Homo sapiens: one gene and its partner. The protein of the gene in region 2 interacts with the protein of the main gene of each other region in a pairwise test. Each region holds a gene or a part of one and is shown on either strand. Other genes may lie near its edges. The genes, in order: HLF and HNF4G.

Region 1 (3,828 bases), on a different chromosome or scaffold from region 2:
AAACATAAAAGACCATGTGGTATGGTAGAGGAGGAGGTGTGTGCGTGTGTGTGTGTGTGTGTGTGTGTGTGTGTACAGCTTAAGAACATAAAGCAATAAAGGAGAACATTTTGATACAGCATAATAAACAATATTGGAGTACTAAGGAGGAGCTTGGAGCAATTCGATTTGGGAAGTATTAAGAGGTGTTACATGATGATAGGAGATGGGTGCACATGCCTGTGTAAGAATGGGGAGGTGGGGACATTGTAGTGATGGGGCATTGGCATTGGGTAGCTTTGTTATTAAGTTCAAAGAGTTTCTAAAGGGAAAATAAAATCCCCATTTGAATCACAGGTGGTTCATTTTCTGAGGCAATCTCAAGAGGCACAAGATCAAATCTAGCTTGACACCATCCAGTACAGAACTCAGCAGTCTCTAGAAGCTGGAGCTGAGCTACAGCTTGGCTAATGAGAACTCTCCATCCTCTGCCAGCACCTCAGGGCCCATCTCTTCCTCTTTGGCAAGCAGGATACAAAGAGAGCGCAAAGCAGAGTGGGACCTAGAAGGTCACCCAGAGCATTCATTTTGCAAACTCCCCACCAGGCCTTTCCAGAAGACAGATGATCACGGTTTCACAGTTTTGCTAGAATCCGAGCCAGTGGCTTCATGCTTCGACCTGGGGTAGGTTTTAATGAAACCTAAAGAATACTTCACACATTGACCTACCATTGGCAGTGAGGAAGAGGGGGAGATGGGCCAAACACAGCTGAACGACATCCTCTCATTTATTCATGGGGCGTGAGAGGAGTGATTGTAAAATTCAGATGAAAACTAGAAGTTAAAATTCAGAGCTCCCAGTATAAACATTTGGGTCTGGTATGAAGTTCACTTTCACCAGTAAGACACATTGAGAAACACAAGAAACCCATTGTTCTCTGGATGTTTGTGCATTTCAGTGGTTTTGCCTGTAGGACCCTCAAGTGGAAGTTAGATTGTCTCTATTATGTTCTTTCTAATTTGTTAAATATTTCTTGAACTAATCTCCTTCTCACTATCTCCATTGCTACCGTTAATGTGTACACTGTTTATCACAACAGCCTTGCATCTCATCAGTCTGCAGCCGTGGCTCATGCAATCCGTTCATCATGCTGCCTGATTCTTCTTTCCAAACATCAGCTCTTTGTCACTTCACTGCTCAGCATCTCTCACTGACATTTGGATTGTTCAAAATCATATCCCCACTGCCCACCTTCTTGGCCACATCTCTTGTGCTTGCACCTCTCCCCACTCTGTTTTCTTCTGATTCAATGTGACAGCTACCCAAGACTATACGTGGTTCTGCAAAAATGCAAACCTCTGTCTTGTCTTGGCACCTAGAATACCCTTTTTTTGCTAATTACTCTTTGTCTCAAGATGCGGCTGTACCAAGAGTCATCTCTAGGAAATGCTCCCTAACCTCCTTTGTGTTACGTACCATTTCCTCACACTGTGGAAGCACATGAGAATTACTTCCATCCCAACATCTGTACTCTCCCCTAACTGGCTAGTTATTGGTCTGTCTCCCTGACTCACCTGGAAACCACCCTCAAGGTGAAAATTACGTAGTTCTGTTCATTGCATCTTGCAGAGTGCCTGGCACATCGCTGTGTGATAGGAAAGAATGAATGTGTATTTTTAAATTGGGCTTCTCCTTCTCTAGTTTTTGAACATGTGTATGTGGGTTTCTGTTTTGCCTGATGTGACGTGAGTCAAGTCATACTCAACCTGCTGTGTTCTCAGAAATGCAGTGCGGATGAGTAAGATAAATCATGTTAGCATCATATATAAGTGAGCTGAAGACTCTTACCACTCATCTCAGAGCACCATTAAGTAGCTGCCTACTGGGTCTCTCTAGGGTGTTCATGAATTAAAACTCCTGTGTTGTTCCAGGTCAGCTGTTGCCAGCAAACCGCAATACACCAAGTCCCATTGATCCTGACACCATCCAGGTCCCAGTGGGTTATGAGCCAGACCCAGCAGATCTTGCCCTTTCCAGCATCCCTGGCCAGGAAATGTTTGACCCTCGCAAACGCAAGTTCTCTGAGGAAGAACTGAAGCCACAGCCCATGATCAAGAAAGCTCGCAAAGTCTTCATCCCTGATGACCTGAAGGTAAATTGGAACTGGTAATCAGTCTTTGGGCAAATGGAGAGTGGGATCCACAGACAGATTAAAAGGGTGACCCCAGGATGATCCCAGAAGCTAGTGCATGAAGGATTTCTGATTTCTGATCCTGTTTCTTGGCATGTGACTTCTAGGCCAGTTGTTTCCTCTCTGGGTATTTTTTGAAATGCACTTTTATGTCTTGATGCTGAACAGAAACAAGGAGAAGCAGTAAAATGTTGGAGTGATTTTAAACCCATGAAGGAAACAAACCTGCTCCTATCTGCATGGAAACCCACAAAAGTCTAATAAAATTAAACCCCACATCTTTCAAGGTTGAGAAGAGAAAGAAAATCATTTGAGAAGGGCATCTGAACCTCATTGCCCTCGAAGGGTTACCTTCCTTTTAGAAAATTTTTGATAATTTGCTGCTGCCATTTCCCTGTAGGCTGCGAGGAATAACAGCCAGAGATAGGACCTTCCTCCATATTGCCAACCTTGGATGACCAGGGTGGGATTTTGTGAAGGAAACTGGTAGTTCCCTGACACCATTTATATGTATCTTAAGTAACGATCACTTGAATATCTCACCGCTAGATTAATTCTAAGTAGGTTTTCTCTGCAGTGTTGAAGGGACACCTTATTTATAAAGGGAAATAGATTTACCTTGGAAGTCAAATACAGCTTAAAACAAAATTAACCAGACACAATAATGACATCTTAGGATGAAAATTCTTTCCAAAATTATGCCATGTCTGCTAATGCCAAAATAGAACCATTTCTTATTAACCATTGCTTAGAACTTTCATGCTTCTTTCCAATCATGTGGGTACTAGAGATATGATTATTATGTAGTCAAGGCCTTGGAACCAGGCATAATTAGCCCTTTTCTACTGTCTGCCCCCCATCTCTCAAACCTAACTATTGTTCCTATGTAGAGACACTCCTAGGCTGGGAAATAGGAATTTGAGACAACGTCTGAACTGGCTTAGACCAGTTGTTCCTGCTTTACATAGCTAGAAAAAATGCTGGAAGCAGAAGTACCTGGCAAATTTAAATCACTGCTGTCATCCACATTCCTGAGATTACCTTAATTGATGCAGAATAGGAAAACATCAGGGCTGAAGGGGACCTTAGAGATTCATTTGTCCAAAATTACCACTTGCAGTTGAGGAAATGCAGAAAATGGAAAGCTGAAGTCAGCGGATCACTACCTGTTAGAGAAAGGCTTAGCCTGGCTCCCAGGTTGTCTTGCTTCCCAAAAGGTCACAGCAGCATGTTGGCCCTGACAAGGGCTATAACGGGGGCCCATGGGTGACAAATCAATGGCTGTCACCCTGAGAATCAAAAAAGGAAATCACATGGTAAAAACACCAGAAAATCTAAACTAGTCAGGACATTGATGGTTAGACTGAGATGGGGTAAAAAAGGGGCACCATGGGCTCAGGTCTTGGGCAATTAGGTACCTTATTTCAATGAGATGCCTTTCCTAGTCTTGTCTTCTTAGTGATCCAATTTTTTATGGTGTTTTTTTTTTTTTTTTTTTTGAGATGGAGTCGCACTCTGTTGCCCAGGCTGGAGTGCAGTGGCACGATCTCAGCTCACTGCAAGCTCCGCCTCCCCGGTTCAAGCCATCCTCATGCCTTAGCCTCCTGAGTAACTGAGACTACAGGCGCACGCCACCACGCCCGGCTAATTTTTTGTA
Region 2 (3,828 bases):
CATTTCAGGGCATAGTCTCCACAATCACATTATGTGGTTTAGAATCTTGGCTATATTATTTTCTAGCTTTGTGACCTTTGGTAAACTTTCTCTGTCTCCATTTCTTCACCTGCAAAATGGGCTGAAAATAGTAGTACTAATCCCTTAGGGCTATTTCAAGGATTAAATGAGAGAATATATATACATATACATGTAATGTACTTAGACCAGTGCATTTACATAGTAAACCTGCAATAATATTAAATATTGTTATATTGTCTTCAATTTATTTATATTTGGGGCTAAAACATCTAGCACAAAAATAAAATAATCTAGTCATATTTTCACACATGCCAGAGAGAGGTAGAGCTAGTAAGTGTCAGAAGGATCTCAACCCTCAAAACCTAACTGTTTAAGTTAAGTAAGGTAGCGGGATTGGAGCAATTAATGAAGACAAATGTCTTTTCTTTATGTCTTCTCTACCCCACCACCCCACACCTATTATCCTTCCTTAGCCTCTTCTAGCATTCCTGTCTATCGAAATTGTTCAGTCATTACCACCAATACTTTTTTACTTGATCATTTTGTAGCATATCGTGGGCTATCATGGGCAATAAGATCATAGGACGTAAACATGTTTTTTTAAAGTGTGTAAAATAAAAAGCAGACTCTGAGGAAATATGAAAACACATTGAGACTCCATAAGGCAGCCATATAATTTACTAATTATTCATTCTGATATAATTTGAACATACCTCAATATTATGTTTATTGAGCAACATCTCTTTTTTATTTTTAAATCTTAATGCTCCCTGATTGTCTCATGGACTCTGAACTTACATACAGTCAAGGCAAGGAAAAATAAGGCCAAGTGAGGACACAATTAAATTAAACCTGTGAAGTGACAGCACCATTTGCCAGTGTCTGTAAATACTTGGTACATACAGAACAGACCCTGTATAATATTGCAAGAATAAAATATGCATAATTTCTTCTTAAATTAAAAAAAAAAAACTTACCCAAAAGCAAAATATCTTTATACATCATGGATCTCTTTGTAGCTCCAAGCAGTAAGTGCTCCCCTGCGTGAGCTCTCAACAGTGCCACCTTAATGAAAAATTCTCAGTTTAACAATTAATTATAATATATAATGATTAAAAGATGACATGAGTCTTGTTAACTTAGAGTGTTCTTTAAGCCTGGGACTTTTTGTTTAACAAACTATAGTATTCATAGATACATGCCATCATTAAGCCTTCCAGTTTTCTATCATAGCATGTCAATAGAACTTACTTTTCAAAAATTTTAAAACTATCTAGCAAATCAATACAATGGCAGCAGAAAGAAAAAAAAAAAAAGCAGACAAGTTAACTGTTTGCAAGGGAAACAGAATCAGACCAGAGTTCAAATCCCAGCACGGCCACTTACTACCTGTTTAACCTTGTGTAAGTTAACCAGTACGTTTGAACTTACTCATTTGTTTTCATCTACAAAATGGGAGTAGAGATAAAAAAAATCTCATCATGTACTCATGAGTACTAAACGATAAAACATATATAAAACATAATCTCCTGCACGTAATAAACTAAATAAACAAAAGCAAAGCAAAGACTTCTTGTAAGGAAAAGATGGGAGGTCTGGGTTCTGCCGCTTTCTAGATTATTCTTCTCAGTAAGCTCTCAACTGAGCTTCATTCGTACACTCAATTACCTGCTGGGCATCACCACTAGGAAGTATAGGAAGCATTACAAATTTAACACCTACCAATGTAACACTTCCCCATTATCTTCATCTAGTAAATGACACCGTAATCCAAAGTGCTTGTTCACATCAAAACAAGAGACTATTTTGAGTCCTCTCTAACTCTGCAGTAAATTCTAGTGCTGCTTCTCAAAATACAAGCCAAAGTGATCCACTTCTTTTCATCTCCATTGCTACCACCCTAGTCCAGGCTGAAAACTCTTTGAATGGTTTCTTATTGTCCCTAGACTGAAATCCAAACTCGTCAAACATGGCCTCACAGGTGATGGGAGGCGTGAGAGGGGTCAGTGCTTTGCCTCCCAGCCCTCATGTCTCTGACTTCATCTTGCAACACCCCTTGTTCACATTGTTGCTGCCTGACTCAGAACCTTGGACATGCTGTTCCTGTATCTGGAGTGCTTTCTTCTCAGATTCTCCTGGGCTTGGCCCCTTGTCTTTCAGGGTCTCAGGCAATAACTTCTCTGGTCCTCAGTTTAAAGTATCTCTTCTCATTTTATCCCCATTCTCCAACAACTCATCCTATTCCATTTTATAGCATTTTATAGAGCTTATCTCCACTTGGAATGAACTTTCTCATAATTTTTGCATTTTTTAAGTTATCCACCTTTCTCAAATAGAGTGTACATTTATGAGAATAGTGAAGAAATCTGTATTTTTACTGCTAAATACCCACAGTTCCTAAAACTGAACAGTAATCTCCTAATAAATATTCATTTGATGAATTTATTGAATGAATTTTACTGATCTAGGGTTCAGTTTTAGAAACTGTAAAATGGAGATAATAACACCTGTCACCGAGCTCCTGAGAGAATTAAATGAAATGATGTAATTTATAGTGCAACTGAAAGCTAATTTCCCATGCCTTATTCATAACAGACATTTACTAATTTGTGGCTAATTAATAAATGTTATACTGTTAATATTAAAGAATCAGTTGGCAAATTAAAACTGTTTTTCACTGGTTACTGGATTTTAATTTCCCAATTTTTAAATCACTGAATATATAAGTCAGCAACTTCTAAAGAAGAATGATAATAAAAATATAAAACTGATAAATAACGTAACCCTACTTATATTGCTTGGGGTGAGACTGGTAGGTTTTAGCAATTTAGCGTTATTCACTGGCATAACCTTCTGAGCCATGCTATCTTTATGGTATGTCAATATTCGTGACTCACACCAGGAAGGCAGTTACAGAGCATTTTAAGAATTATTTCAGATTTCACTGTATTTTTTTTTCCTGTCACCAGGTGAAACGCTCTCTTAAAAATAAATATACACTGGTTATAACACTTACCATGGTTAATTTAAGGTGAGAGAAAGGGAATTTTTCCAATTATTTTCATCTACAAAAAATTATACCCTACTTAGTAAGAACGGTTCAAAATGAATCTGAAACCAAAATACTTATCTTTATAGTACAATTAGGAAATTCAAGTTCCTAAGTATTTATTAAAATATCCTAATGGGCATATGACAAAATATGAAAATAGAAGTATTAGTAAAAGATCACTCTATCTTTTGTTGTGTAAATTTTATTTCTCTATAAATTTCTGATCATGTTTCTACAGATGTTTTTCTTTTTGCCAGACATGTAACTTTTATACAATAAATTCTAGAATAAAATTGACAGCATGAAAGGTAAAACTTTATGTTAATTGCATGAAGTACCCACCAAGACAACACCACAACCTGTGTGGTTTCTGTCTAGGAGTGACCTGGTATTTCTGAGGAGTTTTATATAGCAGCTTCAGTAAACGCCAATACACAACATCCACCATTTGCTTCACAGACATTCACTCTTCTAATACTTTGTCTCACAATGATAGTTACATGCTATCTACCTTTCTCCCTCACATGACCCTTTTAAAATTCCAAAAGGGCAGAGGAGTGTTTTGTTCAGTTCTTGTCCAATCAATAAATTTGCTACACCCCTAAAATAGAAGTCAAACAGTTGTGCCTCTTGATAGAACAAGGTGAATGGGTAAGGAAACCCAATCCTTCCTCCTAATTTATCTTTTGCCAAATACAGTAATATAGAATATGCATTACAAATAATATGGAAAGAACATAAACTTAGCAAAGTTC

Evidence for each region.
Region 1: the proteins of HNF4G (region 2) and HLF interact in a two-hybrid assay, tested with the Homo sapiens proteins (one large-scale study listed by BioGRID and IntAct).

Annotation. Positions count from the first base shown.
Region 1 is NC_000017.11:55,313,316-55,317,143, forward strand, and holds part of HLF (hepatic leukemia factor), read left to right. Parts: intron 1-1,911; coding exon 1,912-2,132; intron 2,133-3,828.
Region 2 is NC_000008.11:75,553,240-75,557,067, reverse strand, and holds part of HNF4G (hepatocyte nuclear factor 4-gamma), read right to left. Parts: intron 1,087-3,828; coding exon 999-1,086; intron 1-998. UniProt on the Homo sapiens protein: Transcription factor. Has a lower transcription activation potential than HNF4-alpha.